Linked DNA regions of Homo sapiens. The protein of the gene in region 1 purifies or fractionates together with the protein of each later gene. This does not show direct contact. Each region holds a gene or a part of one and is shown in the gene's direction. Other genes may lie near its edges. The genes, in order: MYO6, AP2A2 and PPP1R9A.

Region 1 (3,500 bases):
ATACATTTTTACAGTTCTTATCATAATATACATTTCAATTTCTATCTCTACCATTGTTATATACTTGTCCATGTTAATACATTATCTTCATAGATACGATAATGTAATTAATTTTGTGAAAATAGCAATTTCCTCTCCAATTTTGTAGGAAAAAAATGGGATCCCTTATTTTGTTTTGATTTTTATTTATTTGATTACTAGTGGAGTTGAAGACTTTTCTATATGCTTGTTAATTATATTTCATATTTCATTAATTACATTTCATATCTTCTCATTATATTTTAGAGTTTTAATGCTTTTTCTCAGTTTCATAGGTCAGTGCAAGTATGTGGGATATAATGAATATCTTAAAGTGAGCGTTTTATATTTTCTGCAGATATTTTATGTAAACAATGGCAATCTTGGAGGTAGAAAGGAAAAAAAAGATCTGGAGGAAAATGAAAATGCTATAAATAGACTCAGCTGATTTTATAAATCTGTCAAGGGCCATCTTTGTTTATGTGGTATCATTATAAATTAAAATTAACCCACCCACATTTTTTGAAGGCTAATTTTAGAAATCCAATAATTTTGGATATATTTTGTAATTTTTAAAATATTCTCTAGGTACTATTTGAACATTATTCTAAAATAGTAGTAAACTATTGCTAAATTAGCTGATCATTACTTAAGAAATAATTCTTTTTGAGATAAGAGGCTTGCTCTGTTGCCCAGTCTGGAGTGCAGTGGCATGATCTCGGTTCACTGTAACCTCCGCCTCCCGGGTTCAAGCAATTCTCCTGCCTCAGCCTCCCGAGTAGCTGGGACTACAGGTGTGTACCACCATGCCCAGCTAATTTTTGTATTTTATTTTTATAAGAGACAGGGTTTCACTATGTTGGCCAGGCTGGTCTCGAACTCCTGACCTCAGGTGATCTGTCCACCTTGGCCTCCCAAAGGGCTGGGATTATAGGTGTGAGCCACTGCACCCGGCCTAGAAATAATTTTTAACTGCAGTATATTACCTTATCCACAGATTACCTGTCTAATTGATGTGTAATACTTGTGTGCAGAGATAACATAAAACATTTTTTGAATAGTATTTAATGTACAAACAGTATAGTAAAGATAACGGACGTATTGCTTACCATCTTACCTAGTTTTTGCTGTATTTGCATATTGGAGTAGTTTTTTATTTTAAATTGTAAAAAACAATAAAAACATTAAAATTTATCTTAGCCATTTTTCAGTTTATAATTCAGTATTGTTAAGTATATTCACATTGTTGTGCAACAGAAGAAATAAGCTTTTACGTACCTATTTATTTTATTTTTTAAAGTCCACTATGATGACGCAGGAACAAATCCAGAAAGAATATGATGCACTGGTTAAAAGCTCAGAGGAACTCCTCAGTGCATTACAGAAAAAAAAACAGCAGGAAGAGGAAGCAGAAAGGCTGAGGCGTATTCAAGAAGAAATGGAAAAGGAAAGAAAAAGACGTGAAGAAGACGAAAAACGTCGAAGAAAGGAAGAGGAGGAAAGGCGGATGTGAGGCATTTATATTATTTTGAATAAGAGACTTAAAGAAATAGTGAATTCTTGGTATTGACAGTGGTTAATGACAATTATTTGTTTTGTTTTGTTTTTGTGACAGGGTCTTGCTCTGTTGCCCAGGCTGGAGTGCAGTGGCGCGATCTTGGCTTACTGCACTCTGCCTCTCGGGTTCAATCGATTTTCCTGCCTCAGCCTCCTGAGTAGCTGGGATTACAGGTGCGCACCACCACGCCTGGCTAATTTTTGTATTTGTAGTGGAGACGGGGTTTCACTATGTTGGCCAGGCTGGTCTCAAACTCCTGACCACAGGGGATCCACCCGCCTCGGCCTCCCAAAGCGCTTGGATTACAGGCGTGAGCCACCGTGCTCGGTTGACAATTCTTAAAACTGTGTTCTTATTTTAATGAACTAATTTTGTAATAAGTTTGAAAATTGAGAGAATAAGGTCATTTTATAATAGTGATACCATAAAATAATTTTAACTATAATCTGAATTTGTTAGCCTCTTACACCTGAGGATTTTCTTCTTTTTAAAACTATGATTTGTTTATTGTTTTCTAAGCTAGATAAATGACACTTCTACTTTTCTGCAGTTTTAAAACTGATAACATTTTGAAAGATTGCCATGATAGGGTAGAGAGAACAGATGAGTTGTTGACTTGGAGAGGGACTAGAGGGAAGCACCTTTAATCAGGACCTTACAGCCAGGCTTTGTAACCACATTCATCTAGAGATGTTAAAAGTTATAGAATATAATTATATTTGTTTTATTTAAGAATTATTGTCAATAGAGTTAAATTTTATTTTATTCAAAATAAGTTGATGTATGTGGCCAGGAGGTTAATTTGCATTCCCAATCTGTTACCTTTGTTTATTATTAAATAATAGTTAAATTGCCTTCTGAAGGATTCTTTATTTTCTGTTAAATTTTTGAAGAGTTTTCTATTTTTTATTAGGAAACTTGAGATGGAAGCAAAGAGAAAACAAGAAGAAGAAGAGAGAAAGAAAAGGGAAGATGATGAAAAACGCATTCAAGTATGTACTTACTGGGTTGAATTTCTATTAAAATGGAACCTACAGGCTGGGTGTGGTGGCTCATGCCTGTAATCCCAGCTCTTTGGGAGGCCGAGGCGGGCGGATCACGAGGTCAGGAGATCAAGACCATCCTGGCTAACATGGTGAAACCCCATCTCTACTTATACGAAAACAAATTAGCCGGACATGGTGGTGGGCACCTGTAGCCCCAGCTAATTGGGAGGTTGAGGCAGGAGAATGATGTGAACCCAGGAGGCAGAGCTTGCAGTGAGCCAAGATGACACCACTGCACTCCAGCCTGGGCAACAGAGCGAGACTCCATCTCAAAAAAAATAAAAAATAAAAAATAAATAAAATAAAATGGAACCTATGAAAGAAGTGAAAATGAGATCTTGATTTGCTAGATAAGCTGTCACTAGTTTATCCTAGAGACCAAAGGCCAGTTTTTGAAGTGGTTATGGGAATGGACTTTGGAGCTAGGGAAGTGGGTTCAAATCCAAGATCAGTCACTGACAGAAATTGTGACATTGTACACATTATAGTGAGGAACTATGGGTCACAGTTGTCTCTCTGTAGAATGTGGATAAATAATAGTTGCAAGCATTTGACAGTTAATACATGTTAAAGCATTGTGAACACTGTGTAGATCAATAAATATTAATAATTGTTTTTATACCTAGGGGAAAGTCAAATGAAAATTCACTTAAAATGTTAAGTTTTAAAATATCATATAACTTTGTAGATACTGGAATTAATAAATTAGGATTAAGAGTCTCTCTCCACCCCTAGTTTTTAAAAAGTCCCATGTTGAGAATAAATTGCTCATGTATTTGAATTTCTGTTTGTCATGGCTTTCATAATATATCCTAAGCATAACCAAAACTTTAAATTCCTGACATCTGCTCTCTAGGTGTTAGTGTTAATGGGATGCC
Region 2 (3,731 bases), on another chromosome or scaffold:
AGCCCCTGTGCCTGGCCATTTCTGTTAACTTTCTTGAAATTAGATACCCTTTGAATTGTGTTTCAGTGGGACTAAAGTTAAATTTTATTTGTTCATGCAATTCCAGTTATGGAGTCATAAATTAGATATGGAGAAACTGAACACTAAATTTTAAACTCTGCTTAAACTTCAGTATAAAAATTAAACATAAAGTTATACTGATTTTCGTGCAGACGAGTGAAGATCAGCATCAGAATTGGTCAGTCTGCTTTTGCATTTCTTAAATAACCTTCACAGTTAAAAGCTCATTTTGTCCTTTTGACTGTACATTCCTAAAAAGTGCTGACTCTTAGAAAAGAATGCTCTCCTTGCATGTCTTCTTTTGCATGCTTCTGCATAATGTGTGTTCCTTAGAAACCAGTTTAGGAAATGTGTCATGGTGGCTATGGAGAGAAGGAAGGAAGTCCTTGCTCGGGTTGAATTTTTCTTGCCAAGGTTGGTGGTCACTGCTTCTGGGACACCCTGGTTCTCTTCACAGTGTTTTCCGTCTGGCTCCTCTGAAGGTCAGGATCACTTTCTTTTATGACAAGTTGAAGTGTCCTGGTGGTGAACATATTTTGTGCCAGATACTTACTATTACTTCTCTTTCCTCTTAAAATGAACTGTTACTTTTGGTAACAATCTGTGTCAAGATTTTGTAGTAGAAGAGTTCCTGGAAAGGCTGTCAGTGAAGGATTAAATGGCATTTCCTTGGCTCTTAAAAAAATCAAATACGCCGGGCGCTGCGGTTCACGCCTGTAATCCCAGCACTTCGGGAGTCCGAGCCAGGTGGATCACCTGAGGTCGGGAGTTCGAGACCAGCCTGACCAACATGGAAAAACATGTCTCTACTAAAAATACAAAATTAGCCAGGTGTGGTGGCACGTGTCTGTAATCCCAGGTACTTGGGAGGCTGAGGCAGGAGAATCACTTGAATTTGGGAGGCGGAGGTTGCAGTAAGCCAAGATTGCGCCACTGCACTATAGCCAGGGCGACAAAGTAAGACTCCGTCTCAAAAACAAACAAACAAAAAACCCCAGAAATGAACAGTTTTTACCAGGCCACATGATGTCCCAGACTTAGATTATAAAACCACATTTGCTGATTCTGGCAGCATGTTCCTTCTTCAGAACCTTCCTGACTTTAGCTTGAAAGCTGAGCTGGTTGAAACGTCTTGAAAAGCAGTATGTGCAGTTTTGTCACGAGAGAATTTCCGGGTGGGTGGGATAGGTTGAGGTGGGTGTTCCCGTGTAGAAGTGGGGGCTGAAGCTGTGTGGTAAGATGAGCTCTGTGCTTGGGACAGGGTTGTAAGGGTCTGGCCAAGACGCATAGAAGAAATAGCATGTGAGTAGGAAGCAGCCCTATTTTAAATAGCGCCCTGGAGACTTGAATTGGGAAGAGGACCAAGAAGAGTGTGAGGCAGTGAGATGCCCAGCACCAGGGTGGGAGAGGCGAGTTCCAGTGACTCGTGGGCACTCAGGAGCGGGGATGACCCCAGAGACACAGGGAGCTTGGAACCATGCTTCTGTATTCAGACATGACTTTCTGCCAGCTTTGCACGCTTTTTCCTGAAACATTGTTGGCAGAGGGGAACTTGTATCTTCTGTTCAGTTGATTCTCGATTTTAAACGTTTGTTGCCTTTTGGAGCCTGCACTTCCCCTTACCTGGTGATTGGAGTGTGGGAATGGTTGGGGGTATCAAGGCTTCAGCAGGCTGGGAAGGTGGCAGGAGCACAGGGTGCCAGGGGTGGGCTGAGGGGCTGGTGGGTGCTCCGGGATTTTAGGAGGAGTGCTGTGCCCACAGCTGCTGTGTGTCCCTGAGGCCAGGGAAGTCCTGACTCCCATGCTAGGTTCTTTCTGCCCCATGTAGCTCCCTCAGCGCCCCCACCCCGATACCTCAGGAAACTCCAGGTCGAAACTCCAGGTCGAGTGGCAGACCTCCTGCTGGGTGCGTTCTTAGGAATAACACTTCTAGCCGGGGGTTTGGGTCAGATCCTGATTCTACTCTCCTTTGTTTCCCACTTTTAAATTTTTTATATTTATATTTAAAATTTAGAGACAGGGTCTCACTATGTTGCCCAGGATGGTCTTGAACTCCTTGGCTCAAGTGATCCTCCCCCATCAGCCTCCCAGAGTGCTGGGATTTATAGGTGTGAGCCACTGCGCCCAGCCCTTTCCCACCTTTTCAAATTGTAGCCCTGTCGAGAGCCTGGAGTCTTCATCTTTGCCTGAAATTCAGACTCCGAGTTGTGATGGTTTTGTGTTCATCTCTGTGCTTGGCTTCAGGATACTCCCCATTTACCTTTCTTCTCACCCACCCTAAGCTTTGGTGTCTGTCTACGGGTTTGCTTAGAAGTGTAGAGACCAACAGCCAACATGGGGTGCCTGGCTTTTGTTTTTGCGTTGTGGGGTGTTTTTCTTACCTTTAAAATCCCTCTGATGGCAGCACAAGGGTGTAATGAGGATTAGTTATTTAGCATATCTAAAGAACTTTGAGCTCCTTAGGGCAGGCGGCACTGTATTAGGATTTATGTTTTGCTTTTTCTGTGGACCGCCTTTGTGTTTCATGTAATGTAGCTGAAATAGCAAGTACGTGTTTCTTTTCTTTTCTTTTTTTTTTTTGGAGATGGAGTCTCATTCTCTCACCCAGGCTGGAGTGCAGTGGCGCAATCTTGGTTAACCGCAGCCTCTGTCTCCTGGGTTCAAGCGATTCTCCTGCCTCAGCCTCCGGAGTAGCTGGGATTACAGGAGCGCACCACCATGCCCGGCTAATTTTTGTATTTTTGGTAGAGATGGGGTTTCACCATTTTTTTTTTTTTGAGACTGAGTCTTCCTCTGTTGCCAGGCTAGAGTGCAGTGGTGCGATCTCTGCTCACTGCAACCTCTGCCTCCCAGGTTCAAGTGATTCTCCTGCCTCAGCCTCCCGAGCAGCTTGGACTACAGATGCGCGCACCACCATGCCCGGCTAATTTTTGTATTTTTTTTAGTAGAGACGGACTTTCACCATGTTGACCAGAATGGTCTTGATCTCTTGACCTTGTGATCCGCTAGCCTCGGCCTCCCAAAATGCTGGGATTACAGGTGTGAGCCACCGCGCCCAGCTGGGGTTTCACCATTTTGGCCAGGCTATTCTCAAACTCCTGACCTCAAGCAATCCACCCACCTCGGCCTCTCAAAGTGCTGGGATTACAGGCATGAGCCACTGTGCCTGGGCGGTTTTGAATTTTTAGTAGAGACAGAGTTTCGCCGTGTTGGCCAGGCTGGTCTTGAACTCCTGACCTCAAGTGATGCGCCTGCCTTGGGCCCCCAAAGTGTTGAGATTACAAGTGTGAGCCACTGTGCCCGGCCAGTTTTTTTTTTTTTTTTTTTTTTGAGATAGAGTCTCGCTGTGTTGCCCAGGCTAGAGTGCAGTGGTGTGATCTCGGCTTACTGCAACCTTCGCCTCCCGGGTTCAAACAATTCTCTGTCTCAGCGTCCTGAGTAGCTGGGATTGCAGGCACCTGGCTAATTTTTTGTATTTTTAGTAGAGACGGAGTTTCACCATCTTGGCCAGGCTGGTCTTGAACTCCCGACCTCGTGATCCACCCGCCTTGGCCTCCCAAAGTGCTGGGAATTACAGGCGTGAGCCACTGCGCCCGGCCTATTCCTTTTTTTTTTTTTTTCCCCCAGGCGGAGTCTTGCTCTGTCTCCCAGGTTGGAGTGCAATGGCACTA
Region 3 (3,731 bases), on another chromosome or scaffold:
AATTAAAGGTGGTAAGAGCCAGGCTAAAGAGGACTAATTGAATTCTCTCTGTGGCCTTTGCTGTTAATAGTTCATTTTCTTTGTGTCCCACTTTACTCTCTTTTTCTTTTAGCCTTTTTATTTAAAGACTTAAGTATTTACCCTTCGAAAATCAGTGTCGTTTCTGGTGGGGAGAGAAGGTATTCACAGAGATGAGTCAGAGGCACATACAAATAACTTGTAATACAAAGTTAGATGTTAATGAAAGAAAAGGAAATGTTTATCCTACCTCATCCACAATACTAGTAAACTAAGTACTTACGATTTTTTAACTGTTTGTTTCTTCATTTGTGTAGCCAGACCTTGTTTCTTTTCCCCAGCTATCGTCAATTTGCTGATTAGGTAAATTCCTCACTGGTCTTTCTACAGGTTTCAAAAAGGAACAAGGTAGATTTTCAGAAACTGTTTTGGGTTGAAAATTATATATTAAAATGAAAATGATATAGTACCTGAAGACTGCTAGTAAATTTTGCTACAGTAAATTTATGATAGTTACCTTCTGTTGCCTGTAGTTGAACTGGAAACCTGACTTTGTAGGTTTTTTGTCCTTGGTTTCTAAGATCTGTCAACTTTTGATATACCCTCCTCTATATCTTTGGTCATCTAACTTCCCAACATGCATACACATAAATAGTAAATACAAATTAGTGATTTTTATAATTATATTGCAGGAAGGTTGTATGCTTTTCGGATGTTGGATTTTTATAGCGCCTTCATCATCTTTAGTGTTGGTTTCTTCCTTTGACTTTGTATATTTCTCCTAAGCCCCACTGATTTCTTGGTTATTTCTTGGTTACAGGCTGTCATGGTGGTCACCTGATCCTTACCTGATGTTACTGGTTACCTTGAGATTTTATCAGTGTCTGTGGTCTCTTCATCAGTTCTCTCCAAAGGTTTCTCTCACTGATTATCTTTCAATATTCTTAGACTTGAATGAAGCAGTCCCAGAGACAGAGCGCCTGGATTCAAAAGCACTGAAAACTCGAGCCCAGCTCTCTGTGAAGAACAGACGCCAGAGACCCTCTAGGACAAGACTGTATGATAGTGTTAGTTCCACAGATGGGGAGGACAGTCTAGAGAGAAAGGTGAGCACCCTTGACCGTTTCCTGATTTGTACTGTTGGAGTATATCATTGTTCCTACAGCTTATTGAAGATTATGATTTTTCTGCAAACAGAGTCTATGTCCTAGTTGGTAAGCAGCTAGAATAGTTCACGTCTTTGTCTCCTGAATTCTTTATATTGTTGTAATTCAAAATATTTTGTCTATTCATTCAGTGAACTAACCAAGAGCATTATCTGTATTGTCATATTTCATGATGGTGCTTTTGATATTCAGCTATTGGTTTTACTTAGTGGGAAATAATGAACGTACAAGTAATTGTTTCTGTAGGTCTTAGGTATATGTATTAGTGACGATGTTAATATGGTGAATTGGTATGAACCATGCATTCTCATCTGTAAATCAACAAAAACTGGTTTTCATGGGGATTCACTAATAAAAGGTTGGTCTTATTTCAAAGTAAGTATTGCATAGAACTGATACTCAGTGGCATAACCTTCCTTATAATCTCTTATACCAACAGCCATCAAACAGTTTCTATAACCACATGCATATTACCAAATTACTTCCACCTAAGGGTTTGAGAACGTCTTCTCCAGAATCAGATTCTGGTGTTCCACCCCTCACCCCGGTGGATAGCAATGTGCCCTTCTCGTCTGACCACATAGCTGAATTTCAAGAAGAACCACTGGACCCAGAAATGGGGCCTCTCTCCTCTATGTGGGGAGACACTTCACTGTTTTCTACTTCAAAGTCTGATCATGATGTGGAAGAATCTCCTTGCCATCACCAAACCACCAACAAGAAAATATTACGAGAAAAAGGTATTGTTAATTTCTTTTTCTGACTTCATAACACCTCAGCTTGTACAGTATAAAAATGACTTTTTCTCATAATCATAAGTCATTTGTTTTCTCATAGCTAATAATTAATATTAATTTCTTTTTATATTATAGAATAAGAGAAACAACCCCTCCATGTATTTTACTTTAATTTAGTTTTATCTTTTCCTATCTGGTTCAGTATTTTTATCTCTTCAGCTCTCTATAAGTTTACTACTCAAGGGAGTTCTTCAGGGGAGTGGGGCAGCCCAGAGTTTCAACAAACACTAACACAGTCATAAAGAAAAAAACACTACATAGTCATATAGAAAAATATAGAGCGATTTTGTAGAATAGCAGCCCAGAGTTTCAGTAAACACTAACGTAGTCATATAGGAAAAAAAGACGAAGATCAAAGTAACACAGGCATATAATTGATACTTAATAATGTTCTTGGATGAATTGCTAATATACCTCTCCACGTAACCAGTGCAGATCTTCTAGAAGAGGGATAATCAACCGAATGTAGTCTCCACCTGCTTTTGTAAATGAAGTCTTATGGGAGTACAGTCACACTTTTTTACTTACATACTATCTATTTTCATGCTACAGTAGCAGTGTTGAGTCGTTGTGACAGAGACTGTGTATCTCACAAACCTAAAATATTTTACTCTGTGGCCCCTGAAAGGTAAAGAAAGCTTCCTGATGCCTGGTCTAGAAGTATATTTTCTTATACTCAAAATTGCTGGATAAACTCTGAAAATGGCTTCATCATTGGTTGCCATTTATCTAGAATTTTTAAAAAGTGTTATACCTTTACTTTTGGTCTATCAAGTTACCACAAAGATGATTAATTACAGCCATGTTTGATTGCAGGCTTGAGGATAAGGCTCTGGTTACCCTAACAGGAGTTGGCGATTTTCTGAATTGTGTCAATACCACATTTACAAATCATTTTTTTTCATATCTGAGGGACATCAGTGGAAATTAGGATGGAGAAGTCCCATTATAACTGGCTAAATGATAAGCATCTAACGGAATATCAAATTAGAGGAAGTAAAAGATTTTTTTCTAGAGATTTGTAAAACAGGTTATATGCCAGTAGAAGGCATGAAAATATTTTCCTCGTTCCTGTTATATAAACAACCTAATACTAAAGTTTTGGTCCCGAGGCTTACATAGCACTGGGCCTTTGTTCAGTCAAGATTAAATAAAGTAAATTGAACACTATCAATTTTCTACTCACAATTACTAGAGATTATTATTCTAATTTTTTGTGTGGTTAATAACACATTATTTGACCCAGAAGATGTGTTCAAAAATATTCATTGAATTAATGTCTAGTAAATAGAAACTGGCTTTTTTAAAGCTTTACAGGATTTATTGCTTATTAAAAGCATTGGGCCTCTGCAAGTATAGATAGAGTACAATTATATCAACGCTCAGAAGAGAGAGAGATTGCGTCCAGCTGAGGTTGGTAAACAAAACCTATCCAAGGAAGTACAATTAGAATAGCCATCAAAGCACTTAAGGGAAAAAAAGGGTAGGTAAGGAGGGAATAGCGGGTAAAGTGATGTCATTAACAGAGACAGGCACATATCATATGATTTAAAGGTACAAGGCTATCCCAGCCTGGCTGTAGCAGTTTGCTTATGCAGGGTGGAGTAGTTACACACAAAAGTGAGCCAGTAGGTTAAGTATATAGCTTTAGAAGTTAAACATCTTAGATAACTTGCCATATTACTAGGAAACCACAAGAAGTTTGACCAGAGGAATAAAAAGGAAAAGACACCACCAGGTATGGAGAAGC

What was found.
Region 2: the proteins of MYO6 (region 1) and AP2A2 purify together in Homo sapiens (affinity purification with mass spectrometry, with the first as the bait; one study listed by BioGRID). This does not show direct contact.
Region 3: the proteins of MYO6 (region 1) and PPP1R9A purify together in Homo sapiens (affinity purification with mass spectrometry; 2 studies listed by BioGRID and IntAct, with this or other methods). This does not show direct contact.

What each region holds. Positions count from the first base shown.
Region 1 is NC_000006.12:75,888,739-75,892,238, forward strand, and holds part of MYO6 (unconventional myosin-VI), read left to right. Parts: intron 1-1,318; coding exon 1,319-1,527; intron 1,528-2,489; coding exon 2,490-2,568; intron 2,569-3,500. UniProt on the Homo sapiens protein: Myosins are actin-based motor molecules with ATPase activity. Unconventional myosins serve in intracellular movements. Myosin 6 is a reverse-direction motor protein that moves towards the minus-end of actin filaments.
Region 2 is NC_000011.10:932,236-935,966, forward strand, and holds part of AP2A2 (AP-2 complex subunit alpha-2), read left to right. Parts: intron 1-1,289; exon of another isoform or gene 1,290-1,362; intron 1,363-3,731. UniProt on the Homo sapiens protein: Component of the adaptor protein complex 2 (AP-2). Adaptor protein complexes function in protein transport via transport vesicles in different membrane traffic pathways.
Region 3 is NC_000007.14:95,267,584-95,271,314, forward strand, and holds part of PPP1R9A (neurabin-1), read left to right. Parts: intron 1-966; coding exon 967-1,124; intron 1,125-1,623; coding exon 1,624-1,924; intron 1,925-3,731. UniProt on the Homo sapiens protein: Binds to actin filaments (F-actin) and shows cross-linking activity. Binds along the sides of the F-actin. May be involved in neurite formation. Inhibits protein phosphatase 1-alpha activity.